Linked DNA regions of Homo sapiens: region 2 is linked to region 1. Evidence: fine-mapped expression QTL. A gene starts in region 1. The other region holds a variant in brackets. All regions are shown on one strand. Distances are from middle to middle. Region 1 holds the start of NRCAM (neuronal cell adhesion molecule). Region 2 overlaps NRCAM (neuronal cell adhesion molecule).

Evidence for each region.
Region 2: its variant is fine-mapped to the expression of NRCAM in neural progenitor cells (Aygun 2021, PIP 0.95).

Annotation. Positions count from the first base shown.
Region 1 is chr7:108,453,749-108,459,124 of GRCh38, forward strand. NRCAM (neuronal cell adhesion molecule) reads right to left here and starts at 2,688. Exons shown (of 33, transcript NM_001037132.4): 1 at 2,495-2,688.
Region 2 is chr7:108,290,441-108,295,816 of GRCh38, forward strand. The region is part of intron 3 of NRCAM (neuronal cell adhesion molecule); the gene reads right to left. Among named protein-coding and RNA genes, the nearest start is that of LAMB4, 160 kb to the left of the region's middle. The variant C/A (reference allele first, on the strand shown) is at 2,803.

The sequences.
Region 1 (5,376 bases):
ATCAGTTAATTATAATTCTAAAAGCTATTCCAGAAATAGCTGATTCCACTTTGGTTCAAATTTTCCTTTTTTACTAGTTAACATGGAGCATCTTCATAAATGCCCCCACATGTTTCTATATATTTAGGAAATAGAATGATTTCCTAAGATTGGATGCTAGGGTCCTATTCAAACTCAACATCCAATTTGAGGAGTAACTCATTTGCAGTCAAAACCGTGTACAAAGGACATTCAGGGCTGGGGACCTTTTCTTTAAAGAAAAAAAAGTTTTATGAAACTTTATGATGTGCCAGGAACATCTATGTAATCACAGAGGCCCTGGTTACTAAGAACATGTTGTTCAGTGACTGTAATGGGTTGGATTGTGGGTTAACAGCCACGTACTTAAAAGCTAACAGGAATAAAAGAATATGTAAAGGAGTTACATGGGAATAAAAGGCTATTCCACAATACAGTTCTCTGAATCACAATATTGCCTGCTACTGTGAGTTCTGCAGAGCTCCGAATTAAATGGGCTTGTAATGTATCTCCCTGGTTTTGAACACTCAGTGGTTTAGGTTTCCCCTAAACTGATAAGCCTCCAAAAGGCCACAGTCTCAGTCTTGGATTGTAAAGCACAAGGACAAAAACAATCCCACTCCCCTACTTCCTAGCTGTGTGGCCTTGGGAAAGTTACTTGGTTTCTCTAAGCCTTCATTTCCTAATTTTTAAAATGGGGTTGCTGTGAGAATTAAATGAGATGATACATGTAACATGCGCAGCGCCCAGCACATCTAAAGCTCTCAAAACCGGTTGGCTATCGTTACCATTAAAGCAGCAAGTATCAGTTGCCTAACTCCATTTCAGTACTTCAGCAAGTACTGCCATTATTACAATATTTTAACAGCAGGGCATGGTTAGCACAATGCAGTCCCATAAAGCAGCCCAGCCTCCGAGGTTTGTATTCAGAGGTTACTGTGTTCCTTTCCAGGACCACCCCAGGGGGAGCTCCTGGTGCACAACCAATGCTTCCTGCCTCATTACACTTGGCTCCATCTCCTCCTGCAAAAGCCTGGGGCGAGGAAGAGCCCAGTCTCTTAGACCCGCACTTCTGAGCGTTAACCATCTGGGACTCGGAAAGGAAAAGAAAGCTTTCTTCTCAGGACAGTTCTGCGCCGGTGGTAGCCAAGGGCTGGAGCCCCTGATGCGAAGAAAAGGGAAGGAGAGAGGCGGGGTGCGAAAGAAACGCCACCGCTCGGCGCCCTCCCTCGGTGCCCGCGGCGCAGGGGCCACCCGCCAGCGTACGGGGGACGAAGATGTGGCCGCGGGCGCGGGCGGGAGGGGAGGCGATCCGGGGAAGGAAGCGGCCTGTTCGCCAGCCCCGGGGCCCGGGGAGCCCTCCAGCAGCGCTTGCGGCCCTGAGGACACCGCTTTGGGAGAAATGACGACTCCCTTGCTCACCCTACTGCGACACCCCGTCCCCCTCCGCACTCTAGCAGATGCGGGCCGGGAGTAGCTGAGCTGGCCAACCGCCTGGGACCAGGATGCGGCAGCGCCCACCCGCGCGGCGTGGAGGGGGCCGGGGGCGGCGCTCGGCGCAGATGGCGCTCGCTGCGAGATGGATGCTCCAGGGCGGGTAATCACTCCTGGCTCAACACAGCATCCCGGGCGGAGCGGATGCCAGATCCCACCGCTAAGAGCCTGGGCTGGGAAAGCAATCTTTCCAGGCAGCCCCCAGCCCGGTGCGCCGGCCCCGACAAGTCCCAGCCCTCGGAGGCAGGGCGGGGCGCAGGGACTCCCGGGACCCGCACCTGTAAGGCCGACAAAGCCCCCGCAAGCGCCCCACCCCTCTGTCCTCCGTGTCTCTCTCGTTCCGCCTCGATTCCCCGAGCCCTCTCCAGGCAGCGACTGGAGAAGCGAAGTCGGCCTCGCCCCCGAACTCCGTGGTCAGCACAGGTGTACGCACTTCCGAACAAAGCCCACGCCCAGACGTGTCCGCAGGGGCCCGAACAGGCACACGCCCGTGCGCTCCCGGCCCGGCCCCCGCGCTCCTCGCCCCGCCGGCACTGTGGCGTGACGCCCCGCGCCTCCGTGTCCAAGCCCGGGAAGCCGCCGTGCCGGGCCCGCAGGCTCTCCATGCCCAACTGCCCACGAGCAAGAGCTCTGGGCAGGGCTTCCCGGAAAGCGTGGGGTGCGGGCGCGGAGCAGAAGTTGGCCACAGGCTGGAGGGGGTGGTGGGTGCCGGCGCTGCTGGATTTCAGCTGTGCCTTCACCCAAGCGCAGGTCCCCCTGCTCCCTCTCGGCGCCCGCGGGAGTGTCGGGGGCCTGCAGGGGAGAAGGGAGTTGGAGATCTGCTTTGCCCCTCCTGCAGCGCTGCCAGCCCGGTGAGCGCTCGGCTGAACCCCGCGGCGGTGTCCAAGTGACAACGCAGCAGCCTCGCGCGTCCTCCTCCGCTCCAGCCGTCACCCCCGAGCAGGACCCAGTGTCACCGCCAGACGCGCAAGGAGCTACTTACGTTCTCGCGCCGCGCCCTCCGCTCAGCTCTGGCGCGACTGCCCAGGACCCTGGACCGCCGGTGTCCTCCGTTCTCGACGAAGCTATCCCCTCTGGCTGCTCCAGCCAGGCGGCCCCTGCGCCGTCCCCCGCGCCCGCGCGTCTGAGGCTCGGACTGCGGCGCGCGTCCGCCAGCGACCCTGGCGAAGCGAGGCTGGCCCCGCGCCGGCGCGCGCCCCCGCCGCTCCCGCCCTCTCCGCTCCCCCTCCCCGCGCCGTGCTTTTGCCCCTCCCGGCTCTCCTTAGCGTCCTCCCGTCCCCCTCCCCCGCACTCCCTGCGGGCGTCCTCCGCCTCCTCCCCTCCTGGCCAACCCCCTCTTGCCCTGCTGCTGCGACGGCAGCGAATGGGCTCCAGCCGCCGGCGCCTCGAGGGACTGGGTGGCCCCTCACCTGAGCGGCCGCCCCACCGCCAACCTCCGTCAGCCTGCGAGCGCGTGTGGCGGCGGGGGTGGGGGTGCGGGGACGGAGGGCGGGAGTGTTCCGGGGCTAGGATGGCTGGGATTTAGCTACAAAAGATGTTCCAGAAAATGGGTAGTTTTTGAATGCCACTCTCATGGGTTTAGCTTTCTGTGGGAGGTCTGTGGTCTTCTAGTTTTTTCTTTTTTAAAAAGCACTTTCTTCGAAATTCATCAGTTGGGGTGGTTGAGATTGGGTGAGTGGTTTTGGGGGTTTTGTTTTGTTTTTGCAACCGTTCTTTCCAAACACTCCCCGCCGCCCCCCACCACCGCAGAAAAAAGAGCTTTTAGCATAAGGCGGATGCTATCTATCCGCGGTAGAAACTGGGTCTTCTGGTCCCAAGGAATAGGGTTAGTTCGGATTTGCTTATTTACAAATGGGGGAGTATTATGGAGATTTTTTTTTTTTTTTTTTGGCAATGTAAATCGAGAATTAAGATTTTCCAACTGTATAGTATTTGAGTAAACACACTGCTTGCTGCATAGTTCAGGCTCCGAAGCGCACGTCTCCACTCTATCGTGGATGGTGTTCAGGATCCTTAGCCTGACCCTTGGGTCCTCCGTAATCTACTCCGGTCTGCACACAAATTACTTGTCTGCTGGGTATCACCCGACTTGACCACTTACAGCAGGCTCCAGCGCTTAGTGAGCTCAGCGGAGCCTTGATTCCTTCAGTTCTCTAATTCAGGAAAACATTTTCTGAGCTCCTCACCACCCCACCCCACCTCACCACCTCCTCCACCCCCAGCCTCCAAGGTGCTGGGGCAAGATTCAGGAATGAAAAAGAAACAGGTTCATCCTTCAAGGTCTTGACTACCCCAGTGGTCTGTTCTAACTTCAATTTGAACTTGCCCCGTCAGCTCACAGCATCTGCATGCAAGTGAGCAGCCTTCTTTTCCTTCTCCTTCTACTGCCATCCTCTCCTCCTTCTCCAGCCAAATGTGCTCTGGCCTCACAGAGCCTCCCTCGGTTCCTGAACCAGCATGATATCTGGCTGCTGGGTCATTGCACAAGTTGTTTCCACAGTCCCATCAGTGGTTCTTCTGACTCTAGTCCTTACCCAACTGCCATTCAGGTGGTACCTTGCACCTCTCAACTAATTGTCCAAATTTTCCTCTAAAATACCTTCCCCCCCGCAAAAAAAAAGATTCCATGATCCCCCTACTTGAAAGTCTGGGCTGGTGGGCTGGTTCTCTATTGCCTACAAAGTAAATTCCACATCTCCTGGTGTGCCTCTTTACAATCTGCTCCTAACTTATCTCTCCATTTTCCATAACTCTAAGCCTCTGCATGTGAGGTTCCTCCTAGCTAGAATATTGGTCCATCTCTTTTTCATTTGGCAAACTCTTGTTCATCCTTCAGAGCCTTACTTGGTTGTTACCTCCTCTGTAAGGACTATTATAATAGTGCTGGTCACCTTTTAATGATCTGTTTGCATGTCTGACTCCATAAAATTTCACTTCTTTGAGGACAATTTGTCTTATTTATTTTTGTGTAACCACATTTCTCATCAATACAAATGAAGCCACAGATAACCATAATCAACTCTCACTGCCCCATCATTTTGCCCTGTGTAAAGGACTTGAGGCCCCTCCGTTCCTTCCCCACTGCAGTAATTGCTGAGAATCCTGGGGTTGTCTTGCCTGTCCTTCCCATGTCCTTCTACTTCGTACTCTGGTTTTCCAAGATTGCCCCTCACCCCGGCCACTGAGAAACATTGATTTCTGGTCCACATTATTTTCCAGTGAATGCCACAGGGCAAACCTGTCAAGTGGGAAAATGACACCCTACTCTCTTCAGTTCTTGCCCTGGTTCTGTGTAGTAATTTATCCCCCGGGCACTGAAGCAACATTGCTTGTGTCTTCCTGTGTTACAATCTCATAAAGACCCTCTTTAAACAGCTCCTTGAACTTCTGCTTAGAATTGTTCTTTCTCTTCAGGCTCCAGTCCTGGTCTATGAAGCCAGGTTGAGGCAGACGATATTTGGTCCTGGTGAAGTCCAGGTTAGTCCTGATGCCTGGGAGACTACTTAGGCTATTGGGGGTTGCTGAAAGAATAAGGACATGAATAGAATCTCTCTCTTTTTTTTTTATGTGAGTGATGATTTCTCAGGTATAGTTTCCCTTACCTTTACAGGTAGAGTAACAATACTTAATACATAAGGTTATTGTAAGAAAGCACTGGACAGTATCTAGGACATAATAGGTGCTCAGCAAATTCTAGTTTAAGCAGTAATTATTTGATAAGATGTCTGTAATGTAAATACATGCTTGAATAAAAAGTACAAAGCCAGAAGAGAAAAAGCTCTGGAGAAGATAGGAACCACAGTGATAGTACAAAACAAAAACTAAAATTAAGTAATTTGGGGCTGGGTACGGTGGCTCATGCCT
Region 2 (5,376 bases), 160 kb before region 1:
CTGACACAAAAGCTAAAAACCATTTTCCTCAAACATTTAAAAAGGAATCATTTAGATCCTTAAAAAGTTGAATCAGCAACTCTCAGAGAAGGACAGAGCTGGGTCAACAGTACAGTACAAAGCAAGCATTTCTACTCTTTGTGATTACAACTATCTAAACATTTCCGACAGATTTCATGTGGTAATGTTTTTCTGAATGCCATTTTACAGAACTTAAACAATAAAGAATTAAAGTTAAAACTTGAAAAAGATAATCAAAGAAAATGAACTGTAATCGTTTTTTAGAAGCTAAATTGCATCAACATTTGACTATCCATTATGTCTTTTGTCATTTCAGCATTATGTACTATCATTATCTATTCTTTCAGGGTTCTGAAAAGGCTTTAGAATCTGCTGATTGTCATCAACTCGCTACTGTAGCCTCAAAGCTCTGCAGCACTGCTGGACCATGGCAAATGTAAAAAAGATAGTTAACTATTGCAAATAGGGTTTCTGCTGCCAGATAAACAGCATTACAAAGCTGGAGTTAAGAGTGCTCACATCTGGGCACTTTCAGAGAGAAATCTTTCAGAGAAAATGAACAAAACCACTTGGGATTAGTCACATTTCCAATGCGAAAACCGGCGAGTCCAGAATCTAGTCACTCAGTCGTTGACAGATAAAATATAGAAGATCAAAAGAAAAGGGCTGCATTTCTGGGCAACTCCTTCCTCCATATAACCTCAATCCAACACCAAATTAATTTACATAGCATGAGTGTTCTGAATTAAACATGCCATGGAAATATTTTATTATCTCCTGCATTTACTTTGGATAAATACTACTTAATTGGACTCCCTTCTGAGTAATTCAAAATGCACTATCTCAATGGGAAATAGAATTAGTTTCATTATGCAATTTATTTTTTAGTTAAAAATAGCCAGCGAACAAGCAAATGCTTAGAGGTCATATGCCTGATGCTATATAATTAGAAAACCAGAGATTAATACAGTGTAATGACTGGCATAACAACATAGAAAAAGACAAGTTGATTTTAAAGAGTTTGTACTTTCTCAAATGTGTCTTTCTTGACAGGTAAGCATGAGTCAGGACTGGCTAACGATAGTTATCACTGACTGGTTTTTAAGTATATTTGTTATGTATGTATATACTTAATGCATCTAAATGAAGACAGTGATCAATGTTTCTTTTGACCGTGCCTGAAACTAATATATCACCACAAATTCTCTAAGTTACAGAGAACAGGAGAGGAAGAGAGACAGAGCGACAGAGAGAGAAGAGAAAAGAAAGTATAGAGGAAGAGACACAATTTTATTACTCCATAAGAGGAGTTGCAACCTGACTATAATCTTAAACTAAAACATTTAAAAAAAGGATCTGAAATCTAAATGGCCGTAATTTTCTGAAAGAACACTGTGGTGTTACACAAAGACAACCTGACAGAAATCAGAAAGTCTTTGTTTCCAATTAGTTTAGTGGTCTCAAACTCAAATGCCTAAGGGGGCCAAGCAGTTAAAGCTAAAGAATACAGCTGTGCAGCGGAGGAAAGGGCACTGGGGCCCCGCTTAAACAGTGCAGGGTGCTGCTACTCAGCTTTAGCTGATAGTGGTCAGGGAAATATACACCCAGTTTTGCAGATCACTTCATTTTTCTTTTAGCCAGAAATTCAAACTTTTATATGAAATCAACTGTTTTTTAAAATGGTACCAACTAATTTAAAAGTGCTATGTGGCTTCAGGGCTCTGGGTGTAAGAAATACATCCAGGGCCAGATGCTGTCTAGACCTTGCATGGCTACTAAGTAGCTCTGGTCCCTTTGGGACTGTTTCCTAATCGGTAAAATAATATGTCCAAGTTTCTGTTGGCACTAGATGCTTATTCTGGTCCTTTTATGTAGCACATTTCTTTACTTGTGAAAAAACGGTTTAGATATTTTAATTTCCAGTGTTAGAATACTGAAACAATATCAAAGTCAGAAAGGATAACCTGAAAACATGGATGCAATTGAAGTTTTAGAGACTTGCTTACTAACTCAGGAGTATGTTTTATCCACAAAAGTTTGTGTTGTTAAATATGTCACACAGAGTTAAGTAAAAAATCATCAAACCAGTAGAGACAGCAGTTTCAATTTTTGAGAGGCAATGCTTCCTAGTGGTCAAGAATACACACTGGAACCAGTCTGACCTTGGTTCAAAGCCCAGCTCCTCACTTACTAACTGACCTTATGCAAGTTACTTAAGGTCTGTATGCCTCAATTTCCTCATCTGTAAAAATGGGGATCACGGCTCCTATCTCATAGGGTTATTACGAAGTTTAAGTGAGTCAGTGGAAAGTGCTTAGAATGGTGGCTGACACAGAGAAAGCATTAGGAAAAAATTAGCTGTTGTTATTTTAACTGGCGTAAAACAGCTGAGTGTTAAAAGCACAAATGAATAGCTAAATCCAGCAAATCTCCTACACTGGTTGAGCTAGCATTTTACTGTAAAATATTTAAAAGACATTAAACCCAATCTTTATCTGATGAAGGCCCAAATCAATGGTTTGCTAAAATCCATTTACAAGTTACTCCACTGGTAACTTGTAAATGAAGACCTAACATGCAACAATTCATAGAAATCTAACAGAGGTCAACCCAGAAAACGGGGGTCAATGCAGTGGAACAGGGGCCATGGAAAATCAAACGGTGTGAATGCCTCATCCTTGGTTTCCACCCCCTTGTGATTAATTAACAGCCTTACTGCATCCACCCACCAGCTGTATCCTAGCTCATAGGCCTGACCCCAACTGAGGACTACAACAGTAT[C/A]ATGAAAACTGTGCTTCTAATTGTCCAGCGGGCGATCACGGCTTGGCTAAGAAAGGCTCTTTTCACTCCCCTCCTTTCTGATTAACTAGATGGCTTTATAAATCGCCTTAATAAGTTCATTTGTGTAACCCAAGGCTAGCTGCCCTTCCTTCCTGCTGCTAAGAGGGCTCAGCTGCTTATCTTTGGATATGACCCATCAGAAGAGAATTGCAAAAAAACATTTTTAAATCTGCTAAATTGACAAGCAACGCTGATCTCACGTCTCCCCTAATTTAGTCATGTTTTCCTACGTCATAAAGGAAGTCTAAGTGCAGGCAGTACACTGTGATACTGGCAGAAATCTTTTGTAGATTATTTTAAAACCCTTATGATTGTCTCCTAAGCAGTAAATTTGATAACTGCCAACAGGACTGTGTAAAGTAACTAAAATTCACAGACATTTTTATCATTTCTAAAAGGTTTTCATATGTATTATATCATTTAGTCTTCACCAAAACTCTGCAAGATATTATTATTATTCTTCTCTTTTTACAAATGAGAGATTTAGGCTCAGAGAGCTTACGTAACTTGTATAAGATCACATTATTACTGTGAGTTAGATACCGGCTTGATTTCAGGTCTTCTAATTTTAAACTCAGGGCTCTTTCCACTATCACACATGTGCTGATTAATTCACCTATTGTCTTTTAGCCCACACCTGTTCCTCTATACCTTATACTACTGGAGCCAGGAGTTTGCACCCTAAATTTCTCATACTCTTACTAGTTGTCTTTCCCTTGGGTTCTGCTAATTGGAGGTACTGGTGAGCAATAAGAAAGCAGGATAAAGACAAAAGATTCTTGGTTCTGAATCTTAAAATGAGGCAGTTGATGGCAATTGCTGTAGGAGCAGTAGGGTTGATGTGATTTTGGGCTCCAGCAGCCCAGGAAAAGCCAGCACTTTCTTTACTGGTTTTTTTTTTTTTTTTTTTTTTTTTTTCCTTTTTTGAGACAGCAGCTCTTGAGTGAACTCACAGTCAAACTCAAGTGTCACCAACCCACTTGGACTTTCAGGAACAAGCTCATGGGCTCCTGCCCAGAAGGGCTAACTGCTTCGAATCTGGGGATCACCTCTTCTTCCTTTATGTTCCTCCAACACCCCTCTTTCTCCCTGTTGCAGTTCCAGCTTTTCCAGTATATTTCCTTGTTCAAAATTCCTAAAGTGGCTTCCATTTTCCTGCTGAATGTTGCTTTGCACCCAGATGGAAGTCAAGGATATTAAAAGGGATATAAAGCAAATGACACTGTCCCTGCCTTGAAGGAATGTGTAATTTTCTAGATGATAGAACGAATGCATTTGAACCAAGAATAAACAAAATAGACATATCCAAGGGCTTAGGTAAATTGTACACAGACTACTTGTGCAATGGGAAGGAAAATGGGCACTTCATCACAAACTCTATTTGTGTGCTGTGAGGAGAGGGACTTGCATTTATGTTTTGCCTTTGGCATGCAGTCTAGTCTGTTCTCAGTGGATCCAGAAGCAGCCCCTTGTCTAGCTCACCCTTACGGTCTTCCGAATCACTTCCCCTTTTTTGGACATGCTTAGTTTATACTTCCTGCCCCGCAGCCATCTCTGGTGCCAAGTTGTCTGCCCCATTCTTGTTCAGTTTCCTGTTCATTAACTTCTGGCTCATTATTACATTAGTATCCCTAAAGTCCACATTTGCATCACCACACATGAAAAACGTTTTGTCTATAGCAAAAAGGGGCACAGTGATGACATATATGATTTGGTACAGAACTACTAATAACAACAGGGGTTAAGAATGGGTGAAAAAGTGATTAAATGATGAAGAGATTGTCAAGTATTTTGCAGCCCTCATTAAATCTGTTGATTTTGTATTTTTCCCCTAAAATGGAAGAATTCTGTGTCATTTGGGATTAAGTTTTATTTAATTTTAAAATGACAACTACTCTTTACAGAGGGCTCGCTCTGTACTAGGCACTTTTCATATGTTAACTTTTTTACACCTCTCTAAAATCAAATGTTCTATAGATGAGTAAAGTGGGGTCTACAGCAGCTAAGTTACTTCTCCATTCTCTTAGTCTATTCAGGCTGTTATAACAAAGTACCATAAACAGGGTAACATAACAGAAATTTACTTGTCACAATTCTGGAGGCTGGGAAATCAAAGGCCAAGGTGCTGGCAGATTCCATGTCTGATGAAGACCTACTTCTTGGTTCACAGATAATTTCTTGCTATGTCCACCCACAGTAGAATAGGGCAAGACAGCTCCCCGGGGCCTCTTCCTAAAGGCACTAATCCCATCCAATAGGGCTTAACCTCATGACTTAATCAACTTTCAAAGACACCACATCCTAATGCCATCACATCAGAGATTTAGGCTTCAACATATGAATTTTGGGGGGACACAAACATTCACCTCATAGCATTCATTGTTTCTTGTTATTGGCAAAGCCAAGACTCACATTGTCTAAGTTATTTGACTTTTGAGTCCGCAGATGTGAAAACAGTGCTAAACAGTCCATCTTCATGAGTGGAGAACAGCATTTGTGACAACCACCAAAGTA